Linked DNA regions of Homo sapiens: regions 2, 3 and 4 are each linked to region 1. The links come from fine-mapping of genetic effects on gene expression. A gene starts in region 1. Each other region holds a variant in brackets. All regions are shown on one strand. Distances are between the middles of the regions.

Region 1 (5,684 bases):
AAGGCTACAGTAACCAAAGCAGCATGGTACTGGTACCAAAACAGAGATATAGATCAATGGAACAGAACAGAGCCCTCAGAAATAATGCCACATATGTACAACCATCTGATCTTTGACAAACCTGACAAAAACAAGCAATGGGGAAAGGATTCCCTATTTAATAAATGGTACTGGGAAAACTGGCTAGCCATATGTAGAAAGCTGAAACTGGATCCCTTCCTTACACCTTATACAAAAATTAATTCAAGATGGATTAAAGACTTACATGTTAGACCTAAAACCATAAAAACCCTAGAAGAAAACCTAGGCAATACCATTCTGGACATAGGCATGGGCAAAGACTTCATGTCTAAAACACCAAAAGCAATGGCAACAAAAGCCAAAATTGACAAATGGGATCTAATTAAACTAAAGAGCTTCTCCACAGCAAAAGAAACTACCATCAGAGTGAACACGCAACCTACAAAATGGGAGAAAATTTTCACAACCTACTCATCTGACAAAGGGCTAATATCCAGAATCTACAATGAACTCAAACAAATTTACAAGAAAAAAACAAACAACCCCATCAAAAAGTGGGCAAAGGATATGAACAGACACTTCTCAAAAGAAGACATTTATGCAGCCAAAAAACACATGAAAAAATGCTCACCATCACTGGCCATCAGAGAAATGCAAATCAAAACCACAATGAGTTACCATCTCACACCAGTTAGAATGGCAATCATTAAAAAGTCAGGAAACGAGGTGCTGGAGAGGATGTGGAGAAATAGGAACACTTTTACACTTTTGGTGGGACTGTAAACTAGTTCAACATTGTGGAAGTCAGTGTGGCGATTCCTCAGGGATCTAGAACTAGAAATACCATTTGACCCAGCCATCCCATTACTGGGTATATACCCAAAGGATTATAAATCATGCTGCTATAAAGACACATGCACACGTATGTTTATTGCGGCACTATTCACAATAGCAAAGACTTGGAACCAACCCAAATGTCCAACAACGATAGACTGGATTAAGAAAACATGGCACATATACACCATGGAATACTATCCAGCCATAAAAAATGATGAGTTCATGTCCTTTGTAGGGACATGGATGAAACTGGAAACCATCATTCTCAGCAAACTATCGCAAGGACAAAAAACCAAACACCGCATGTTCTCACTCATAGGTGGGAACTGAACAATGAGAACACATGGACACAGGAAGGGGAACATCACACTCCAGGGACTGTTGTGGGGTGGGGGGAGGGGGGAGGGATAGCATTAGGAGATATACCTAGTGTTAAATGAGGAGTTAATGGGTGCAGCACACCAACATGGCACATGTATACATATGTAACAAACCTGCACATTGTGCACATATACCCTGAAACTTAAAGTGTAATAATAATAAAATTTAAAAAAAAGAAAGTAATGCAAAAACTGCAAAAAAAAAAAAAGAAAAAGAAAAGAAAATGGGCATAACACCTACTTCCTAAAGTTGTTGTGAAGCTTAAATTGGAATAAATTAGCTAACATACGTAAACACTTAGATATTGCCTGGCATATGATAGGTGCTCAATAAATGTTAATCTTATACCTCAGGTGAATTTGTGACTGGCCTTTTGCTTTCTTGGGAGGAGAGACACAGGCATTATAAATTTCACCTGTCCATGTGGTTTGTACTCTTCCTTTCTTCTGTTTAGCAAAATGCCCTTTTAAAAAGTCCCAACCTTGCTTCAGTTGAACTGATGGGCAAATGTGATTTCCCACACCTGAGCTAGGGGATCTAGGCTCTCAGACTGCCCTGAGAGCTGTGCTGCAGAGGCCTGGCCAGAACCCTCAGAGCAGCTCCGGACTCCTTCCTCTGTCACTCCTCCACATTCAACTAGAATCCTATGTCTCCCGAGTTGACCCTGTTGCAAATCTGTGCCCCTTTTCATTTGCATGGGCCCTGCCGAAATTCAGAAGCTTAGTTCTTCCCATGACTATAGGGGCCTCGGGCAGGTCTCTTGCTCTGTCAAGGTCAAAACCCCTACTTTCCTAAATTCAACCATTGATTCTCCATCTTCATCTTACTTGATCAGCCACACTTGACATAGTTGATCACTTCTCCCTTTAAACATCTTCACATGGCTTCTGGGACCTTTTGTTTTCCTCCTACCTCCCTGGCCACTCCTTTTCAGACTCCTTTGCTGGTTTGCTCTCATTTTTCCCTAACCTTTACATGTTGATATGCCAGAGCACCTCAAACCCTTAGACCTCATCTCTGCTACTCGTGCTCCCATGGTGATCTCATCTAGTCTCTGGTTTCAAACACAGAGTGATCACTCCTGTACTTGCTGTTTCCCTTTTCCTGGAGTTCTCTCTGCCTCCTGCAGGTAGGAAGTGATTCGAGATAAGAGAGGGAGAGAACTCTTCTGGCCAGGATAGAGGGTGATTCTGAGAAGGCTTCAAGGAAGAAGTGAGCATTTGAGCACGGCTACTTGAGGAAGGCTAGGCCATGGACATTAGGGTGCAGGCAGGAGCAGAGCAAACATGCTTGTAAAAGGAACAGCAATTATTCTGTTTTATATTTATATCAGCCCATGGTGGCCCCCACAGCAGAGTGGCTTGATCTCTCACCTCCTTCAGGTCTTTGTTTAAAGATTAACTTCTCCATGAGGCCTTCTATGAACATAACCTTTAAAAACATAAATCCCCTTCCTACTGGGACTCCCCCAGTTCCCACCCTGAGACCCCCTATCTCTCTTCTCGATTTTATTTCTCTCCATAGGATGTGTATCACCACCTGACTTACTAGCTATTTACTATATATTAGTTTATTTCTTCCCCATTAGAATGTAAACTTCCTGAGGGCAGGGATTTTGTCTGTTGAGTTCAGTTCTGTATCCCCAGCACCTAAAACAGTGCCTGTCCATAACAGGCATGTTAAACATTGTTGGACAGATGAATGAGTGAATGAAAAATGGTAGTACCTTTCCTCCTCCAGTCCATCCTACACAAAGAGGCAAGATTAATTTCCCTAAATGCGTGAGCATTAGGAAGTGGGAGGGATTGGAGGAGGAAATTATAATAAGGAATCCATAAATTACTTAAGCCCATAAAACAAAGGTAGGAAACATTCAAGATAAGAGACCTCTTCTGGCCAGGATAGAGGTTGGTTCTGAGAAGGCTTCAAGGAATAGGCAGACATTTCAGCAAGGCTGCTGAGGAAGGATAGGCTGTGGAAATTAGGATGCAGGTAGGAGGATCACAGAGCAAACACTCCAAGGTGGGAAATGCAAGTGTGTGTAGAAGGAACAGCAAGTATTGTTGGGTTGGGCTGGCTTATGAAGTTGTGACGGGCTGAGGGAGAGACAGGACTGGAAAAGCACGTTGGGGTCAGGTTGCAGAGGTCCTTGACTGACAGAGAGGGGAGCTTGGTCTGTGGGGAATCTTCTGCTCTGTGTGGTCAGAGGCTGGTCTGACTCTCCGGCCTTGCCCCAGTCTTCCTATCCTTCATCCAGCCCCGGCTGGCTCGGTAAAAACGGCGCGAATCTCGCTCTCCCTGGGTAACTAGGGTCCCCACTGCCTGGCTAGTGGTGCTTTTCGCGTCTTCACTGGCACCATTAATGAATGAAGTCTGGCTCCCACCCGCGGGGAAGGGAGGAGCCTCAACCTCGGGTCCTTTGCTCTCCTGCAGCACTCCTGCCCGGGTCCCGCCTCGGGGTCGCCAGGCCCTGAACCCCAACGCCGGCATTAGTCGCGCCTGCGCACGGCCCTGTGGAGCCGCGGAGGCAAGGGACGGAGAACGGGGCGGAGGCGGAGTCAGGGCGCCCGCGCGTGGGCCCCGCCCCCTTATGTCGGGTATAAAGCCCCTCCCGCTCACAGTTTCCCTAGTCCTCGAAGGCTCGGAAGCCCGTCACCATGTCGTGCGAGTCGTCTATGGTTCTCGGGTACTGGGATATTCGTGGGGTGAGTGCCGTCTCAACGGTAGAGCCGCTCGGTCAAAGAGACTGACGCGGAGAGGGCGGGTCTCTGGGTCCGCGATCTCCAGCAGGAGCAGCTCTACGCGGGAGCCTTTTCGAGCTGCCGAGCCACGGATGTCGACCCCTGCCCAGCCTCTGGGATCGCGGGCCCTGTGGGGAGGGGCGGAGGAGACCACGCCGGAGCCGGGCCTAGGGGCCGCTTAACCACCGCCCCGGCAGGACGCAGGGACTCGGCAGCCCCGGGCCGGGGAACGTTAGCGGGCGGGGGTTGGGAATGGGTGGGAGCTGCGCAGTCGCTGAACCGCTGTCTTCCCCAGCTGGCGCACGCCATCCGCCTGCTCCTGGAGTTCACGGATACCTCTTATGAGGAGAAACGGTACACGTGCGGGGAAGGTAATGCCGCTCCGCGTGCCCGTGCAGCCAAGCTGGCCCTCCACCTGCCCTGGTCTTCTTACGCCCAGAGGGTGGTGGCGTCGCGCCAAGGCCGGGTGGGACGTTTGCCCCAATCTGGGTGAATAGAGACACATCCTTTATCTGGAACTGGGGGTTCTCTTTTTAACATAGCCCAAACCCGTCTTAATGCTTAACCAAATAGGGCTCAGAGGCTCAATGGTTATGCTTTTGGGGCCTGGGAATTTGAGGTATTGGGACCAAGTCATTTCTTTAGATCTTTTGCTCTTGTCAGGTGGGGTATTAAGGAGGTTGGGTCCCACTTAATTCCGTCTCTTACAGCTCCTGACTATGATCGAAGCCAATGGCTGGATGTGAAATTCAAGCTAGACCTGGACTTTCCTAATGTAAGTGGCTTTAGTAGAGGTGGCGGGCAGAAGGGAAAGCCTTCAAGTATATCCATCCTTGCCTCTCTCCTGCCTGGTACAGAAGGATGCAAAATAGGGGATCTTAACCCGGATAGAATAAATAGAATTCAGGGGTCCTTGAACTGGATGGATATGTATTTTCATTCCCATTAACCACTAGCAAAAGTTATTTCCTTTTATTGTGAAGAGAGACAATAAGTGACATTGGTTATTAGCCATGTCTGTCACTTTGTCACTAGTAGAAATCAGGTATTTTCTTTTTTGTGTGTTTCTTGTTCTTTTGTTTTGAGACAGTGTCTCACTCTGTCGCTCAGGCTGGAGTGCAGTGGCGCAATCACAGCTCACTGCAGCCTCAACCTCCCAGGCTCAAGCAGTCCTCCCACCTCAGCCTCCCAAGGAGCTGGGACTACAGGCACACACCACTATGCCCAGCTAATTTTTGTATTTTTGTAAGAGACGGGGTTTTGCCATGTTACCCAGGCTGATCCTGAACTTCTGGGCTCAAACAGTCCTCCCACCTCGGCCTTCCAAAGTGTTGGGATTACAGGCATGAGCCACTGTGCCCAGCCTGAAATCAGGTAGTTTCATATTCTATAACATGCGTTGCAGATATTTTAAGTGATATTTATATACATGTAAGTAAATATATACATATAATGTTATTTACTTTGAGATTATGTTAGTCATTACATCTGCTTGCTATTTAATGCACTAATAGGCACATGTTACTCTTATTTGAATTTTTAAAAATATTTTTTGATTGTGTAAATTATCTATTTTGCTTCATGCATTTAACAACTTTATTCTGAGAAAAGGTCCATGGCATGCACATACACTCACACATACACACACCAATTTAAGAACCCCTGTCTAGAATCTTGTGGACCCAGTTGCTACCTTCTACTTAT
Region 2 (5,684 bases), 67 kb after region 1:
ATTTTAAGTTACTTCAACAAGAGGCAATGCAGATTGCTGTCAGGGTGGAGGAAGCCTATGCTTAGCATGTTCCTGCAAGGATGTGAATCAAGAAGAGATCAACCTGTAGATCCCCACACAGCCTTTGGAATTATAGACCTCAGAATGACAAACAGAAAAAGCGTAAAAAAGCAAAAGATATAGCCAGGCAGAGTGGCTCACGCATGTAATTCCAGAACTTTGGGAAGCCGAGGTGGGTGGATCACGAGGTCAGGAGTTCGAGACCAGCATGGCCAACATGGTGAAAACCCGTCTCTAAAACAAAAATACAAAAATCGGCTGGGCACAGTGTGCACGCCTGTAGTCCCAGCTACTCGGGAGGCTGAGGAAGGAGAATTGTTTGAACCCAGGAAGGGGAGGTTGCAGTGAGACGAGATCACACCACCACACTCCAGCCTAGGCGACAGAGTAATACTTCCTCTCAAAATAACAACAATAATAATAATTTTTAAAAAGCAAAGGATGCAGTCAGACTGGCATCGACCTACTCACCAGAAATGCTCAATTCTAGAAAAAAGTGAATAAATCTATTAGAAGTCTGAAGGTTTTCATCATAGAATTCTATCCCCAGCTGATATGGTTTGGCTGTGTCCCCACCCACATCTTACCTTGAATTGTAATAATCCCCAGGTGTCAAGGGTGGGGGCCGGGTGCAGAAAACTCCATCATGGGGGCAGTTTCCCCCATACTGTTCTCACGGTAGTGAATAAGTCTCACAAGATCTGATGGTTTTATAAGTGGGAGTTCCCCTGCACACGCCCTCTTGCCTGCTGCCATGTAAGACATTACTTTGGTCCTCATTCGCCTTCTGCCATGGTTATGAGGCCTCCCAGGCCCTGTGGAACTGTGAGTCCTTTAAACCTCTTTCCTTTATCAATTACCCAGTCTCGGGTATGTCTCTATTAGCAGCGTGAGAACAGACTAAATCCTCAGCCAGAGTATTCAGTAAGCATGTAAAGGCACTTTCAGTTATGCAAGGACTAAAGACATTTCTCTCACAGGTACCCAGGAAAGAGAGGAAGTAAACCCAGAGAGAACGTCCTGATGACAGCTGTGCAGCAAGCCTGGAGAGGGTACCTGGAAGCCATCTGAGAAAAACAATAGAGATTGGGTCCTGGAGACCTAACAGAAGTGATGCAGTCATATAGTGGAGAAGGTAAAAGGGACCCTGGTTCTCTCTGATGGAGATTCCACCCCCTTGGGGTCCTATTCAATGAGACACAAGCTCTGTGCAATTATGGAAAGTACTCAATACGGCTGGATGAATGAATGGGAGATCCAGGCCAAGAAAGAGACATCCTTTCCACAGTGCCTCATGGGGCTTCCTGCTCTGAGTCTCTCAGGAATGGGAGCAAGAATTCTCAAGCGCCTTACTATGCCCAGCAGAATCCTTTAGAACCCAGCCACTGCCAGGATCACCAGCCAGTCCCTTGGAAGAGGCAGTGACAGACAGACAGACAGTCTGGGTAGATGGCCAGGAGCAAATAAGACAAGACACACAGCAAATGTGGTTGAGGCTTTACTTCCATCAGGTAGGCCTAAGGCAGGGACCATGCTGCAGGAGCAGGGCCTGTAAACCAGTCAATGCTGCTCCTTCATGCAACACGGGGACAGCTCGGGGCTGAGCTCCACAGGCGAGGGGCCAGGCAGGCCCTTTAAAGCAGACACAACCACTAACAGGAAGGAAGGTCAGGCTGGCTTTAGTGCAGGGAAGGGTAATGATGGGAGGGGATGTTCACGAAGGATAGTGGGTAGCTGAGGCTTCAAAGGGCCTGCATGGGACAGGGGTTTAGGGGGAGTGAAGAGGGACAATGAAGTCTTGGGAGTAAAGATGGGAATAAACAGGAGAAAGGAACGAGGAGGCAGGTGCTGGGATGCAGAGTCCAGCTGCGCTGCACAGCCTGGGCAGCAGGCTGAGTATGGGCTCCTCACTCCCACCTCCTGGCCTTCAAGGCCCTACTTGTTGCCCCAGACAGCCATCTTTGTGAACACAGGTCTTGGGAGGAAGCGGCTGGACTTCATGTAGGCAGAGATCTTCTCCAAGCCCTGAGAGGGGGGAAAATAAGGCCAGAACTCAAGGTCAGCTGCCCATGAGGGCTGGCACAACCCCACTGCAGACACAGCAGGTCAGGGCCCTGGCCACAGCCTTTCCATGTGGGCTCAAGTGCTGAGGCATCACACAGCTTCTTAGGGTCCCCAGATCTGCGGAGTTAACTCTTCCAACTTCCTTTAAGTAATGTTGTACCACAGTAACAGCTAACACTTATGAAGATTCTACACGGTGCTGGGTGCTCTGTACCCAAGAGAAATTACAACGTAAGCTTAGAAAACCCACTCGACTACTCTGCAAGGCTGAATCTATTATCACCATTTGTCATGTGGGAAACAGAAGTTCAGCAACTTCCTTACATTTAAATACCTAGTAAGGGGAATAGAACTTCAATGTAGCCTGGTTCTGTCTCTCTCCAGTTCTGGCCTCTTTCTGCCAAATTCTCTTCTTCTTCTGCCCCACCACCCCTCACACCAGGCCCTGTCACTCCTTGACTGCACAAACAGTCTCCTTTTCCACAGGGAGGCTCTTGGCTTGTCTGGGTATAGAGACACAGAAGGGACCTCCAGCAGAACAAAGGGGCTCTGAACACACTCACCCAATGTCTCAGTAAAACCTGGATGAAAGTGGAATGGGGAGTGGCAGTGCACAAGAAAATCAAAGGCGAGACTAGGCTCTAATCATTCCCCTTAAAGCAGAAAGTCCAAGGTTCTCCATCTGGTATCTTAGCAAAATCTCACTGTGCCCTAACCCATGGCATCTCCAGCCCTGCTGCAGATCAGGCTACATGACACTCAGATGTGCTGTGCACAATCTTACCAGGATTGAATGCCCAGATAAGGTATTCAAAAACATCCGGCTCACACCTGTAATCCCAGCACTTTGGAAGGCCGAGACGAGTGGATCACCTGAGGTCAAGAGTTGGAGA[C/T]CAGCCTGGCCAACATGGTGAAAACCCATCTCTACTAAAAATACAAAAATTAGCTGGTCATGGTGGCGGGCACCTGTAATCCCAGCTACTTGGTAGGCTGAGGCAGAGAATTGCTTGAACCCAGGAAGCGGAGGTTGCAGTGAGCCAAGATCGCACCAATGCACTCCAGCCTGGGTGACAGGCTTGACCCTGGCACATAACGGGCCATAGCTCTCAGCTCTCCTCCATCCCTCCCTTCCCACCACCTCTTACCTAACTCCAAGGCCACTCAGCCTGGACCAGAACCGCAGAACCAGAGCTGATGGGAACTAGCTGAGCAAGCAGATCTCTTGATGGGGAGTGGAAAAGGGAAACAGATTCAAGGCTCAGAAGCCTGTTGGACAAATGCCTCAAATCCCCAAATCTGTAGTAATGTAGGATTTGCTGCTCTCAAACAAGTTCAGCACACACTTCACAGGCTGCTCTGCCTGCAGGCCTCTCACTGCACTCATTTCCAGGATGGGGCTGTCATCTATGCATCTCCCACTGTGCCTCACACCCTGCCTCATGCAGAGGAGAAGGTCAGTGAACAGGAGTAAAATCAGCGTGCTACTCATCTCACAGGGGGAACACCTGGAACATTGGAGGGAAAAAAAGAGAGGAAGAGGCCAGGCGCGGTGGCTCACGCTTGTAATCCCAGCACTTAGGGAGGCTGAGGTGGGTGGATCACCTGAGGTCAGGAGTTTGAGACCAGCCTGGCCAACATAGCAAAACCCCATCTCTACTAAAAATACAAAAATTAGCTGGACGTGGTGGTACACACCTGTAATCCCAGCTACTCAAGAGGCTGAGGCAGGAGAATCACTTGAACCCAGGAGACAGAGGTTGCAGTGAGCCGAGATTGCTCCACTGCACTCCGGCCTGGGTGACAGAGCAAGACTCCGTCTCAAAAAAAAAAAAAAAAAAAGAGGTAGAGAAGGAAAGTGCTCCAGCACAGGGCATTTCAGCATAAGCTCCTTCAACAGGGGCACCCACATATGTACCTTAATCCAGCTCCAGCCACAGCCCTGGCTCTCAGGATTCCCCACATGGGGGTTCAATCATACAAAGTTTCTGGGTGTAGCTGTGAATACTGCCTGTGGGTTCAGTATTGAACATCAATGCTACTGTGTGTCAGTCCTACTATTGCCAGCTGCATCCGTGGTCCTGAAGTGCTCTGCCTCTTCCAAAGTGTCCTGGGCTATGAAACCCAGGCTGGACAAGGCCTGAGGCTTTTCTTTTGTCACAAAACGGAGAGCCCTGACTGCCAACCATAGATCCAGAGGCTCGCAGGGAGCCCAGCACAGCCTCCACTGGCTCTGGGACCCTGAGCAAAGGACTGACCCTCTCATTCTCAGTTTCTTTGTCTCTAAAATGGGGGAGATAATTCTACCACCCTGTAGGAATGTTGTAAATTTCAAATTCAACACAATAGGTATAATGTGCTGGGTACAGTTCGTGGCATGAAGCCAGCACTCAATAAATGCAAGTTATTCTTTTCTTCTTTTTTTTGTTTGAGATGGAGTTTCACTCTTGTTGCCCAGGCTGGGGTGCAATGGCACGATCTTGGCTCACCGCAACCTCCGCCTCCCAGGTTCAAGAGATTCTCCTGCCTCAGCCTCCCTAGTAGCTGGGATTATAGGCATGTGCCACCACGCCCAGCTAATTTTGTATTTTTAGTAGAGACAGGGGTCTCACCATGTTGGTCAGGCTGGTCTCGAACTCCCGACCTCAGGTGATCCACCCAACTCGGCCTCCCAAAATGCTGGGATTACAAGTGTGAGCCACCATGCCCGGCTCCTTTTTTTTTTTTTTTTTTTTTTCTTGAGATGGAGTCACACTCTGTCATACAGGCTGGAATGCAGTGGCACGATCTTGGCTCACTGCAACTTCCACCTCCCAGGTTCAAGTGATTCTCCTGCCTCAGCCTCCCAAGTAGCTGGGATTACAGGTGCTCGCCACCACGCCCAGCTAATTTTTGTATTTTTTTTTAGTAAAGATGGGGTTTTGCCATGTTGGGCAGGCAGGTATCAAACTCCTAACCACAGGTGATCTGCCTCCCTCAGCCTCCAAAGCGCTGAGATTACAGGCGTGAGCCACCGCACATGGCCAAAAATGTGAGTTATTCTTTGTGTAGCTCCAGGACTGGGAAAGCATCACAAAGGAGGGAAAGGAATAAGAGACATAAAGAGAAAGGAGGCTGGGGGCATCACCTCAAATCGGGAGATGAAGTCCTTCAGGTTTGGGAAGGCATCCAGGCAGCTGGGCTCAAATACTTGGTTTCTCTCAAGGACATCATAAGCGATGAAATCCACAAAGGTGATCTGGATAAGGCCAAGGATATGTGGGCTGAAACCTCCATAATATAGGAAGTATGACAAATCTGTGGTGTCCCCATCACACGCCCCCATTACCTTGTCCCCAAGAAACCATGGCTGCTTCCCCAGAAACTGTGAGTAGAGCTTCAGCATTTCAGGGAGTGCCTGCAGGTATTCTGGTTTCAGTTTCTCCTGAGGCAGAAAACAGCTGTCAACACCCTCAGACACAAGCTCCCTGCACAGATGCGGCCTCCCAGTTTTGTGCATGGCCCCAGCTGGCCGCGGGCAAGCAGTCATCTTCCCCACAGCTGGAACTGGGTCACTGTCCAGG
Region 3 (5,684 bases), 21 kb before region 1:
TGGGAGAGAAGGCTGAGATATCCTGGGATAGTTCCAGGGAAGCTAAAGATGGGAGTGCTCCAGCCCTCAGACTCCACAGGACACTCCATCACAGGGCCCAGCACCGGGACCCTGCATTCTGCCCACGAGGGTCCGAGGCTCACTGGCACTCCCCCGCCCCCGCCTCCCCTCCTGCCCTGCTCCCTGGTTTCTGTTTATACCTGGCCTTGTTGGTTAGACTGTGAGTTCCCAGAGGGCAGGGGAGCCTGGCCCACTCTGAGTGCCAAGAAAGATTTTTCGATACCATGGAGTGCAGGAAGTGGGTAGGTTTATGACTAGAGATAGATGCAGGCCTCCGTTTTCCATCTTTGCTGAAGCTGGCCAGGCGTCCACCAGGGGTCTGGGCACAAGATGGGGTACAGAAGGAAAGAGAGTGGAAGAGCGAGAAAGGGCTGGTAAGGGGGCTCCTGCTGGAAGGGACAACAGTAGGGACAGAATGAGGGCCCTGCCAGAGGGAATCTCAGCGCTCCATGTAATGCCCCAGGGGCCTCAGTCCCCATCTTCTGTGACAAGATCCATGTCCTGCTCACAGGCACCACCCAGGTACACAGGATCACACACCTATGGGTGCCACCCACGCACAGGCATGGCACACACGCCAGCCCACAGCTTCCCCCAAGCCTGGAGTCCACCTCCAGCCGACCTGTGCCCTCACCACAGAACCCAGACTCTGGGCCATGTGTGCTCTCTTCTTCTGGTCCCAGCCCCGTGCCTGATGCTGACCTGTTCCCCAGAGTAGGCACCTAAAAGGCAGAGGGAAGAGGGGGCCACACCCCAAGGCTAGCAGTGGGGGAAACAGGGAAGCAGGGGCCTCTAGCTAAGCTGGGGACGCCAGTCAGCACAGACACTGCCGCAGGTCCAGGTTGATGTTGAGCGGTTAGTGACCAGGAAGCCTCCCCACCCACCAGAGTCCAAAGAGCACAGGCGTGGCTGCCTCTGTAACCTCATCAAAGGCAGGCTCTGCCTGTGGCCACTAGCAGAGAAGCTGCTGTCCTTCCACCACCAGCACCGGACCACCTGCTCCAAGACCAGCCTCCTGGGGGGACCAGGCACCCGGCCTTCACTGGCACCCAGGTAAGGGCCTGGCCCCCAGGGAAGATCGGGGCCCAGCCCAGTCACAGGGGATCTCAGGGCAGGTGGGGGCAACTCAGTGGCTTCCCAGGCCAGGTCTCCAGCCTGTTCCCAGCTGCAGCCCAGGGGATCAAGCCCAAGGAGGGGCTTGGGACTCAGCAGCTGGCTGGTGGGCTGGAAAGCAGAGCGAGGTCCAGGCTCCGGAAGGGCCTCTGGGATGCTTGCCCCAGGGTCTATGAGGTGATGGCCTTCCCTGCTCCAAACCCCTACATCTAGGGCTTAAAGGGGGGAAATGGGCTGTCACAGCTCCCCTACCCCTAAGGGGCAAGGCAGGCCAAGCCAGCTCCCTCTTCCCTCCCTGGGGTAGGGAATCTTTGGCTGCAGCTGTTTCCCCACCTTGACCTACCTACCTAGAGGGCCCCACAGGGCCCACCCTGGTGTTGAGGGAGTGGGGAGTGGGGCTGACCAGGGGCAGACCTCACTTCCTCTTCTGCATGGAGAGCATGGAGAAGCAGGAAGTGTTACAATGGGGGTTGGGGGAGGCTGGGGAAGGGGAACAGGCTTCTAGCCCCGCCTTACCCCTGGAGAGAAAAGGGGTCCTCCCAAACAAGGAAACCAGAGATCCAGCCGTCCCTTCCACATTCCCTTAATTGTTCACTGGCAGTTTATTTCCTTCCACACTGAGTCATCTTATCAGATCCTACGTCATTTTCACAACAGTCCTAATAAACAAGGGTATGGGTTGCTCTCTCACATGTTACCCGGGGTAGTCCAGTATTTCTGCACAACTGAGGTGTACCATGTAGACATGTGGATACCCACAAACCTCATTTGGATAACACATACCCTTGACCCGCACAGACTAACACCACCCCCACCCGGGACACACACACCACATTTAATTCCACTCCATTTCAACATGTATGTTCTCTAGACTCCCTCTGTGACTGCGCACAGCCCAGCGGCAGAGGCATGTTTATAAACCATTAAAACACGAAGCTTGCAATCGGACAGATCTGGGTTGCTCTCTATTAAACGTTCATTTGTGACCTCAGGCCTGTTACCGTCTTTGAGCCTCAGAGTCCTCATATGGTAAATGGGGACAATACCAGTACCTGCCTTGTGAGGTTGTTTTGAGGATTAGAGTGACTGAAGGTAACGCCGTTAGAACAGTGCTAGGCACGTGGCGCCAAGTAAGTACAAGTGGACGGCAGTGAGGAGAAACTGATAGGATGTTGGTAAGGGGCTCAGCACCAGGCTCACAGCACCGTGGTGGCTATTGTGACTATTGTTGCTGGAGATAAATGTACAAGGTCCAGTGCAGCATTAGGAGGGTACCCTGGGCAGGGTGGGGTTGGATGGTCCAGGAGGGCTTCACCAAGAGGGTGATCTTTGAGCTAGAATTTAAAGGGTTGGGGTCAGGAGGGGACCTGGGCAGAGGATACAGAGTACAAAAAGCAAAGAGCCAGGAGGCCTAGGGAGACACTTGGGGGAGGTCAGCTCACTGGCGAGTCCTGCAGTGCCACCATAAGTACACACACACATGCATGCAGTCTTCCCAGAGGGTCTACAGCTGAAGAGCCAGCATCAGCGTCCTCTCAGTTTGCAGAACTGAAACAGGGTCGAACAAGAGGGCCTCCTCTGGCGGGGTCGGCTACAGAACCCTCTGCTCATCCAGCATCTTTCATACCCAGGCCCAAGATAGGATCTGAACGCAGGTCCCTGTCCATCCAGGTTTCCTGGGCTCCTTGGCATGAGCTTTATCAGCCAAACCATGGGAGGCCTGGAGCCTTCCCTGAGGCCCAGCCATGCTGTGGCCTCCCTGACCCTCCCTTCCCTCAGCCCGGGGCCTCCAGGCCCAGCCAGGATGGAGGGCTCCTCAGTGGAGGACGCTGGCTGCAGATGGCTCCGGAAAGGGCCCCTGGAGCCAGGGGCTTTGGGTCTGGTCCCAGAGGCCCCCAGTCAGAGCAATAGCAACTGTCCTGCCCTGCTGTGCCTGGTACACCTTTCCCCAGCTCTGATGGCTGCCTCTGGTTCACTTTGGGTTCTAGGGAGCCGTCCTCAGCAGCGTCAACATGTCAAGGCCCAGCAGCAGAGCCATTTACTGTAAGCTCCTGGCAGGCCCCTCTCCCGTGCCCTCCCACTGAGCCCCCAGAATGTCCCATCCTCCACTCCCCCTTCCTCACACCAACTGCCCCCAGCAGTTGCCTGAGTCTCACCTCGTTCTTCTGCCCACCTCCCGCCCCTTGCTCTGTGCCCTTGTAGTGCACCGGAAGGAGTACTCCCAGAACCTCACCTCAGAGCCCACCCTCCTGCAGCACAGGGTGGAGGTGAGTACCTCTGCAGCCCCCGGGCAGTGTCCAACTAAACCCAAGTGTTCCCATGTGCCCACCGCCCTGCCAGAACATGGACACTTCACACAAGTCCCTGCCCCAGAAGCCAACAGCCTGTCCCAACCATGTCGCATGGACTCAGATCCAACAAGCCTGCCAGAGCATCTGCTCAGTGTCAGGGACG[G/A]GGAGGGGTGGTCAGATTGAACAGAGCAGGCCTGGCTGGAGGTTGAGCGGGTGAGTGTCCTGTCCCCAGACAGGAAGAAGTAGCAGCAGGATGGGATAAGAAGCACCTACAACCACCCACCCACCTACCCTCCCCTGTCTCCCAACCCCCTGCTGCCCGAGTCCCCAGGGCACTGCTCCATTGCCCAAGACCTTGCATGGCTGGAGGCAGGAGTGTGTGGGATCTTTGGGATCTTTGGGCCCTGTGGGGGATTGAGAGGGCCACTGTTGGAGAGGGGAGGCACCTGGGCCCAAGCCTCCAGGGTGACTGTGAGCAGCTCCGAGGCTGCTCCAAGGCTAGAATGGAGTCTCTGGCTCTACCAGGGAGGATGATGCAGGCACTGCAAGATTTAGGTGCCTGAAGGGCTGTCGACACCAAGGTGAAGGCGAAGCACAGGCTACAAGGGCGTGGTGGGGAGAGCAGGCAGAGGGTCAGGCTGGAGCTCTGGGGTAGAAGCCATCCTGTCCTGGCCACCACTTGTTAGTGGCTCCAATGGAGAACAAGCAGGGAGGGAGCTGGGGCGATGGTCTGCAGGTCCCACAGGGCAGCAGGTCCCACAGGGCAGCAGAGGCAGAGCTCCCCTAGCCAGCCGAGGAGAGGCCAGGAGGACTCAGCTTCTCTGTAGGGTGGAGGCTGGGAAGAGGCTTCTTTTAGGCCCAGCAGGCAGAGCAAGAGGAGGATGGAGTTTGCTCATGATGCCAGAGTCCCCTGAATATGCTGGCAGTGCGAACACAGGGAGAAGAGCTGGGCCCTGGGCAGGGGGGTGGGGTCAAAGGGCAGGAGGCAGGCTGCATCTCCCTACCACAAGAAGCCTGGGTGGAAGGGGCCTTGTGAAGGTAATGTTTGGCTGGGAGAAGGGAGGGGGCTCCTAAAGGAGAGTGGATAACAGCAAAAAACTCCTGGATGGTCAGCCTAGCAGTAGGCAAGGACTTGAGCGGAGACTGAGATCACGATGGATATCTCCAGGCATGAACCAGGGAGAAGGAGACAGGAATGCTGGGTGAGTGAGGAGGAAGACTGGGCTGGGACTGAGTTCCCAAAAGGAACAAAGGAAGCCAGGGACAGAATCTGAGGGTCCTGTATCACCTCCAGAGGAGTTATTTGTTGGGTGGCTGGAGCCCACATCCTCCACCACCCAGCTGCCTCACCTGGCCTGGACTAGTAAAGGCCATGCCTGTCCTTCCTCCAGAGTCCTCAAACCCCTCCTGCAGCCCCTCAGACTCAGACTTGGAGGCCCTATCCCTGGCCCCAGTGCTTCGACACCGTCCCTCACATTGGCCCTGGAAAGTTGCTTTATCTGAAGCCTGGAACCTCCTACCTCAAGGGGGCCGAGGACACGTCTTCTTCCTCTTCTGCTTTTCTCTACCCAGCACGCCTGTGGTCCACCTCTCTGAGCTTTCTCCCAGTCCTAGGACTCCCCCTCTCCCTGCAGCACTTGATGACATGCAAGCAGGGGAGTCAGAGAGTCCAGGGGCCCGAGGATGCCTTGCAGAAGCTGTTCGAGATGGATGCACAGGGCCGGGTGTGGAGCCAAGACTTGATCCTGCAGGTCAGGGACGGCTGGCTGCAGCTGCTGGACATTGAGACCAAGGTCAGCCTTCCCAGCAAACCCAGTGATAGCCAGCCTGGGCTGTGGGGAAGCAAGCACTAGCTCTTGAACTCCACCCTCCATGCCCCAAAGGGCAGCCACTCTCCCCACATACAACACACACCCAAGCCTAGGAAGAGACAGGGGACAGAGGCTGGGGACAGAGGCACAAGAGTCAGGTAGATGACACCTCAGCCCTAGGCCACCAAAGGGCTAGGATGAGCTGGTCAGGAGCTCCCAGAAGCCACACCTAGCTCTGGTGGCCTCACAGTTGACCTCTCCACCTGGCCCAGGAGGAGCTGGACTCTTACCGCCTAGACAGCATCCAGGCCATGAATGTGGCGCTCAACACATGTTCCTACAACTCCATCCTGTCCATCACCGTGCAGGAGCCGGGCCTGCCAGGCACTAGCACTCTGCTCTTCCAGTG
Region 4 (5,684 bases), 29 kb after region 1:
TGTGTGGGCTGAAAACCCCGAAACACATGAAGTAAAACAGATCTCATTCCCCATATCACTCCTCCTTTACCTTGTCTCCTGCAAACCATGGCCGCTTCCCCAGAAACTCTGAGTAGAGCTTTAGCTTTTCAGGGAGTTCCTCCAAGTATTTTGGCTTCAGTTTCTCCTGAGGCAGAAAACAGCTGTCACCACCCTCAGACAAAAGCTCCCTGCACAGACGTGGCCTCCCCAGGGCTGTAGATGGCCCAGGCTGGCCACAGGCAAGCAGCCATCTTCCCCACAACTAAAACCGGGGCAGTGCCCAGGCTTCAATTGGATACATCAGCATTTATTAGACTCTGACTGGGTGCCAGACCCTATCTGAAGTGATCAGAATGAGATGCTCTTCCTGAATCTGTCCTCACTGGCCTCCCAATAGCCTCTGGGTCAGCCGCATGAGCGCCCGAGCACCTGGCAGCCTCTGGATCCAGACAGGGGCAGAATCAAGGATGCAAAGAACTAAAGGAGCTCAGGGAAAGAAGTAGAAAGTTCCTTCTAATGGGGTGACAGAAGAAAACAATGAACATTGACTAGTTTCCAGGGAGATGAGAAGTTCAAGTTGAAAGGAAGGAGGGAGAGGAATAAAGGCCCTCTGGCTGCCTCTGAGCTGTCTGTTATGAAAATGCGCAGATCCCGGTGCATGTCAATGACAGCACTTGGAAAACTTTGAGGAGAAGATGCAATTTGAGGGTGCCATTACATTCCTTGGTCTTGTACTTGAGTCTGTATATTCTAGGAGCAGGTAGGTGATATAAATCAACTGACAGAAATGACCCATGACAGAGGCCAGAGGCCAGAGGAGATGAAGGAGATTCTGAACACAAATTTTACCATCTAGGAATTGAATTTCCACCGTGGGATGCCTGGATCGTGTCCTAAGATTGGTGGGAATTGCCTCTGCTTTTGTTGACATGACATTGGAGTCGTGAGAATAACTGCTGATAGTATGGGAAAGCACTTGGAGGATGAGTGGTACCAAGGACTTAAGAAAAGACCAGTGCGTGCAGGAATGCAAGAGTCCTGGCCCCAAATCCAAACTCTGCCAGGTGCAGCTCACTGGGGAGACTCACAAACTCTGGGTGGTAGCAGATCATGACCAGTTGCATCCAGTTGTCCGTGGTCTGGTTCTCCAAAATGTCCACAAGAATCTTCAGAAGAGGAGAAGATTCGTGTGGACATTTTGGAGAACCAGGTTATAGACGTCTCCAGTCAGCTGGCCGGAGTCTGCTACAGACCTGACTTTGGAAGTCCCTCCCTGGTCTGGGCCAAAAGGCAGGGAAATGGGTGACTGGGAGTGGGGTGTGGGACTCACAAAATCTGGGTCATAGCACAGTCTGACCAGCTCCATGTGGTTATCCATAACCTGGTTCTCCAAAATGTCCACACGAATCTTCTCCTCTTCTGTCTCCCCACCTGCCACCCACAAAACACAGACTCAATCTCAGCATCACAGCCCAGCCAAGGAGGAGGTCACCTTCCCCCCGCACATTGCAGCCACCCACACTCACACAGGTTGTGCTTGCGGGCAATGTAGCGCAGGATGGCATTGCTCTGGGTGATCTTGTGAGCCCCATCAATCAAGTAGGGCAGCTGGATAGATGGGAAACCGGGGAAGCTCAGTTGGGCCACCAGGCTCCCCAGCATCCCCTTCCCATATGCAAGGGCAGAGAGGAGACCAGGGCCTGCTCATGGCAGGCCTGAGATAGAAATACTGTCACACTAATAAATGAGCTGGGACACAGAACATCATGCAAGGGCTGTGTAGACAGCCAAGAGTGAGAGGAATTGGGCAGAAGACTCCTGATCTTAACACCTCTAAGGTGGGGAGAGGAGATGCAGTCAGAGACACGTCGCACTTTCCCCCAAAACCGCCCCTTCCCCTGCACCTACATTGGGAAAGTCCAGGCCCAGCTTGAATTTTTCATTCAGCCACTGGCTTCTGTCATAGTCAGGAGCTGTGGTGGGGAAGAAGTGAAAACAAACCTCCCCAGAGCCCAGCCCTCCTTCCCGGGGACCCTCCCAAGGAGCCAGTGGCAAGATCCCTGAGACAGGTGGATCTAGAATCTGACCACTCAGTCCCACATCCCAGGGTTCAGGGA[G/C]AAAGAATCCCACTGAGGGCTCTGGACCCCACAACGGCTAAGGCTTCCAGGGTTTAGGGAAGCTCTGAGGGACACCCAACCCAATTAGACAGGGTGTCCAGCATCCCGCCCCAGCATTCTGCCTTGCAAGGCCAGAGGGCTCACTCACGGGAGCTCAGGGAAGGGACAGCCTGCAGCTCCAGCAGGGGAGGCCTGCAGAGGCAGCCACAGGTGGCCACCATGGGTTGCTTGGTGCCAACTCAGCGTGAGTGGGCAGGGCCCGGACACGAGGGTGCCATTACCGTCCCCCAGCGTGTACTTCTTTTCCACATAGCTTGAGTCTGTGTATTCCAGGAGCAAGCGGATGGCGTGGGCCAGCTGGGAGAGATGGCCCGCGGCTCGGGTCAGAGATGGAGGGTCCCTGACTTGGTGACTTTCTCTGCACCAGGCCAGCCCCTAGTCTATACTGCACGTACCCGTCGCCTCCTCTACCCGCCCCCACCCCCAAACACACACACAGCGTCATGCACAGGCCCTTCTGAGGCGGGCAGCCCTGAAGAGGAACGGTCCCTAGAGCCAGTCCTGCAGCTACTCCACACATCCCCGCCTCCGCCCCCTGTCCCACCCACCAGAGGACCCTCGCTTACCCCACGGATGTCCCAGTACCCCAGAGTCATGGGCATGGTGCTGGTTGGTGCGGATTCTGCAGACAGGCATCAGCGGAGCGGGGCTCAGACTTTGAGAGGCCCAGGAGGGGACAGGCGGGGCCTTGCTGCGACCCCGCCCCTCGGCCCGCCACAACCCCGAAACACGCCATTCTGTAGGCCCCCGAGCGAGCGCCCGGGGCTGGAATCAATAAGCCCCCTCCCGCCTCCCAGTCCCCAGGGTTCCGGGAGCGAGGTCAGGGCGCCCAGAAGCCCAAAGCGGGGCTCGGCCTCGCCAGCTTCCCCAACCCGCCCTGAGGCTCCATGAGTCCATCCAGCCCTTGCTAGGTCCACAGCGACTTGGCTGTGCGCTTGAGACACCAGCCAGATCCTAACGGAGCAAAGCTCTTCTCCCTTCTCCTCCCTGCCCGCAGAATCCCTCAGCCTTCTCTCCGCTGCCGAGTTCCCAAGGGCTCTGGGAGACTCCGGCTGCAGGGGTCAGACTAAAAAGTGGTGGTCCCAACCTGGGAATTTAATTCAGCCCCTGTCACTGTAAGAGCAGGACTTCCTCTGATCCGAAAGCTACTCCGAGGGCTTAGTCTCCCCTCTAGCCCCGCCTACACAGGAACAGTGTCAGTGGTATAGGAAGGACCCCCAGGAAAAGGGCCAGAGTAAAGGAAATGTGGTCTGTGTTTTCTGTTAGGGGCCTTTGGATACTGAGTCCTTCGGTCATCTGGCTAAGTACTATGTAAATTAGCCACTTCGTATTTTGGCACAATTTATGAATCGAAATCCAAGGATCAGATCCAGCAAGTTGGTGAGGTATCTGAGGTGCCCCCTAGAAATGTCCAGCCAGTCCACTAGGTGAACCTCACAGAGACCGGAACAGCAACAGCAACAGTGAGTGCAGTGGCCACAGAGAGCAGGCGAGGGAGGATGGAAGAACTTCCCGGACCAAACTGAGGGTCCGGCTGCTATTTCTCTAGGCCCAATAACGAGATGCAGATCAAATGGGGAGGAAGAGAGGTTTTATTTCTGCAACCAGTTACAGGGAGAAGGCCTGGAAATTACTACCAGACCAACTCAAAATTAAAGTTTTCCAGAGCATATATACCTTCTAAGGTATATGTCTACAAGTAAGTGTGCATTCATCTAAAGACATAAGTGATTAACTTCTTTAATCTGTAACTGAGGTCTGGGTCCTGAGGACCTTACTCTGGAGCCTCAGTCTATTTACTTAATCTAAATGGGTCCAGGTGCGGGGGATGATTGCCCTTATCTTGTCTCCTGCTAAATCATGGAGGTTTGGGGAGTTCCTTCAGATGCCCAGTAAACTTGTTTGTGGAGGCCTGGGGAGTTTCTTCAGACTCACAATAAAACTTGTTTAATTCTAAATAGGTCCTGTTAAGAATTCCTTCGTTGTTTTGTCATGCTTTAAGGCCCAGGAAAGGCCTAAGCAAAACTCTTGGTGGGCTTTTGTTACATCCAGCCTCTGTATAAAGGTACTGGCTTTTTTCAGCTTTTAATATTTAATTTCATCACTCAGTCAGTACTGAAACAGTTGTTATGGAGGCCTGTGTTAGTGACACCTGGTCTGCCACAGAACCTGTCCCTCAGAGAAGCCAGAACCCTGTCCTGCTGAGGAGGGAGGTCAGAGGATGGTGGCCAGAGAGGAGCCTGAGGGCTCCCCACAGGATCACAGGCAGGGACTCTCCCCTCTCCAGATCCACCATGCCGGACCTGGACCTGGCTCCTGACCCATGTGTGTTCTTCAGTATGAGACGGTGGCTCCAGTGGCCTTTGAAGTCACACCGTGATATGTGACCCATGGTACAACCTCCGCAAGAACAATGTCCAACCTGCCAACTTTCTTCTTTCAAGGTAGAAGGAAGACTTTCAAAAGAGTTGTGCAATGGATTAGCCTGGGGTTGACTGCTTTTTTTAAAGGATATTACAAATAATAATGGATATATGGAAATAGATGATAGACCTTTAATGAGAAATCATTTTGCAATGTAAACCAGGCTGTTGTGCTGCAAAAAAAGTAGTTTTTTGTTTTTTGTTTTTGTTTTTGTTTTTTTGTAAATTAGCTAAAACATTGTTAGGACTCCAGAGGATGAACCCAGTATATCAAAAAAGTTTCAAACCACCTGGATAATGTGTGGTTTGGGGTTGAGTAAACAGGTAGACTTCATCACATCCCTATTAGGCCACAGAAATCAGGTGGTCAGCAGGTGGCTGCTAAGTTGGGGCACTTGGACACTGTGTCACTGAGGCTGGCAAGGCACAGTCCTTGTTGCAAACACTCCCCACCCATCCAGACCTGGGCAGTACTCCCAGCTCAGATACCTGGCAGGTATCCATGTTTAGGAAGCAGTTTTGGCCTCACAGTGAATTCTCACATAGATTTTCCTGCATTGAGGCAATAGCACCAGCACAGACACAAGTGCCTGGCCCTAGGAATCATTATATTTCTCATTATGCATTAAGAGTTTATGATTTTGAGTTAATGGGTCTTGAGCTGTGAAAGATAAGATGTCTAGATCCAATTGATAAAAACGATTTTTTAAGAAAGCTAACACTCATGAGAATAATAATTTTGAAACACATAGAACCAGTACTGTTACATTAGTATTGTTTGAAATACTTGTTCCTTGGTTCCATAAAGAAATAGCACTTGAACATAAATTTAATTTCCTCAGCAAGGCTATCGGGGAAACTGCCCCCAGTATTTCAACATAGGTTCTATTTTCCATAAGTGTCAGCTGGCTGAGAAATAAAGAGAAAGAGTACAAAGAGAGGAATTTTACAGCTGGGCCGCCAGGGGTGACATCACATATCAGTAGGACCGTGATGCCGGCCCGAGCCTCAAAACCAGCAAGCTTTTATTAAGGATTGCAAAAGGGGAGGGGGTGTACGAACG

Evidence for each region. PIP is the estimated chance that this variant, and not a neighbour inherited with it, causes the effect.
Region 2: its variant is fine-mapped to the expression of GSTM3 in whole blood (INTERVAL, PIP 0.91).
Region 3: its variant is fine-mapped to the expression of GSTM3 in thyroid (GTEx, PIP 0.92).
Region 4: its variant is fine-mapped to the expression of GSTM3 in left ventricle (GTEx, PIP 0.97). The same link has a PIP of 0.9 or more in gastroesophageal junction.

Annotation. Positions count from the first base shown.
Region 1 is chr1:109,738,500-109,744,183 of GRCh38, reverse strand. It overlaps GSTM3 (glutathione S-transferase mu 3), which reads left to right and starts at 3,146. Exons shown (of 9, transcript NM_000849.5): 1 at 3,146-3,231; 2 at 3,673-3,944; 3 at 4,276-4,351; 4 at 4,691-4,755. The coding sequence starts at 3,897. RefSeq lists a silencer at 3,707-3,936.
Region 2 is chr1:109,671,148-109,676,831 of GRCh38, reverse strand. GSTM2 (glutathione S-transferase mu 2) reads right to left here. Exons shown (of 8, transcript NM_000848.4): 6 at 5,450-5,545; 7 at 5,249-5,359; 8 at 1,546-2,085. The coding sequence ends at 1,996. Among named protein-coding and RNA genes, the nearest start is that of GSTM2, 5.9 kb to the right of the region's middle. The variant C/T (reference allele first, on the strand shown) is at 3,018.
Region 3 is chr1:109,759,251-109,764,934 of GRCh38, reverse strand. EPS8L3 (EPS8 signaling adaptor L3) reads left to right here and starts at 1,012. Exons shown (of 19, transcript NM_133181.4): 1 at 1,012-1,113; 2 at 3,162-3,216; 3 at 3,376-3,440; 4 at 5,099-5,257; 5 at 5,548-5,684. The coding sequence starts at 3,186. LOC124904258 (a long non-coding RNA gene) reads right to left here and starts at 5,070. Exons shown (of 2, transcript XR_007066303.1): 1 at 4,985-5,070. RefSeq lists an enhancer at 3,640-4,369. The variant G/A (reference allele first, on the strand shown) is at 3,628.
Region 4 is chr1:109,709,429-109,715,112 of GRCh38, reverse strand. GSTM5 (glutathione S-transferase mu 5) reads right to left here and starts at 2,862. Exons shown (of 8, transcript NM_000851.4): 1 at 2,765-2,862; 2 at 2,420-2,495; 3 at 1,930-1,994; 4 at 1,548-1,629; 5 at 1,352-1,452; 6 at 71-166. The coding sequence starts at 2,800. The variant G/C (reference allele first, on the strand shown) is at 2,139.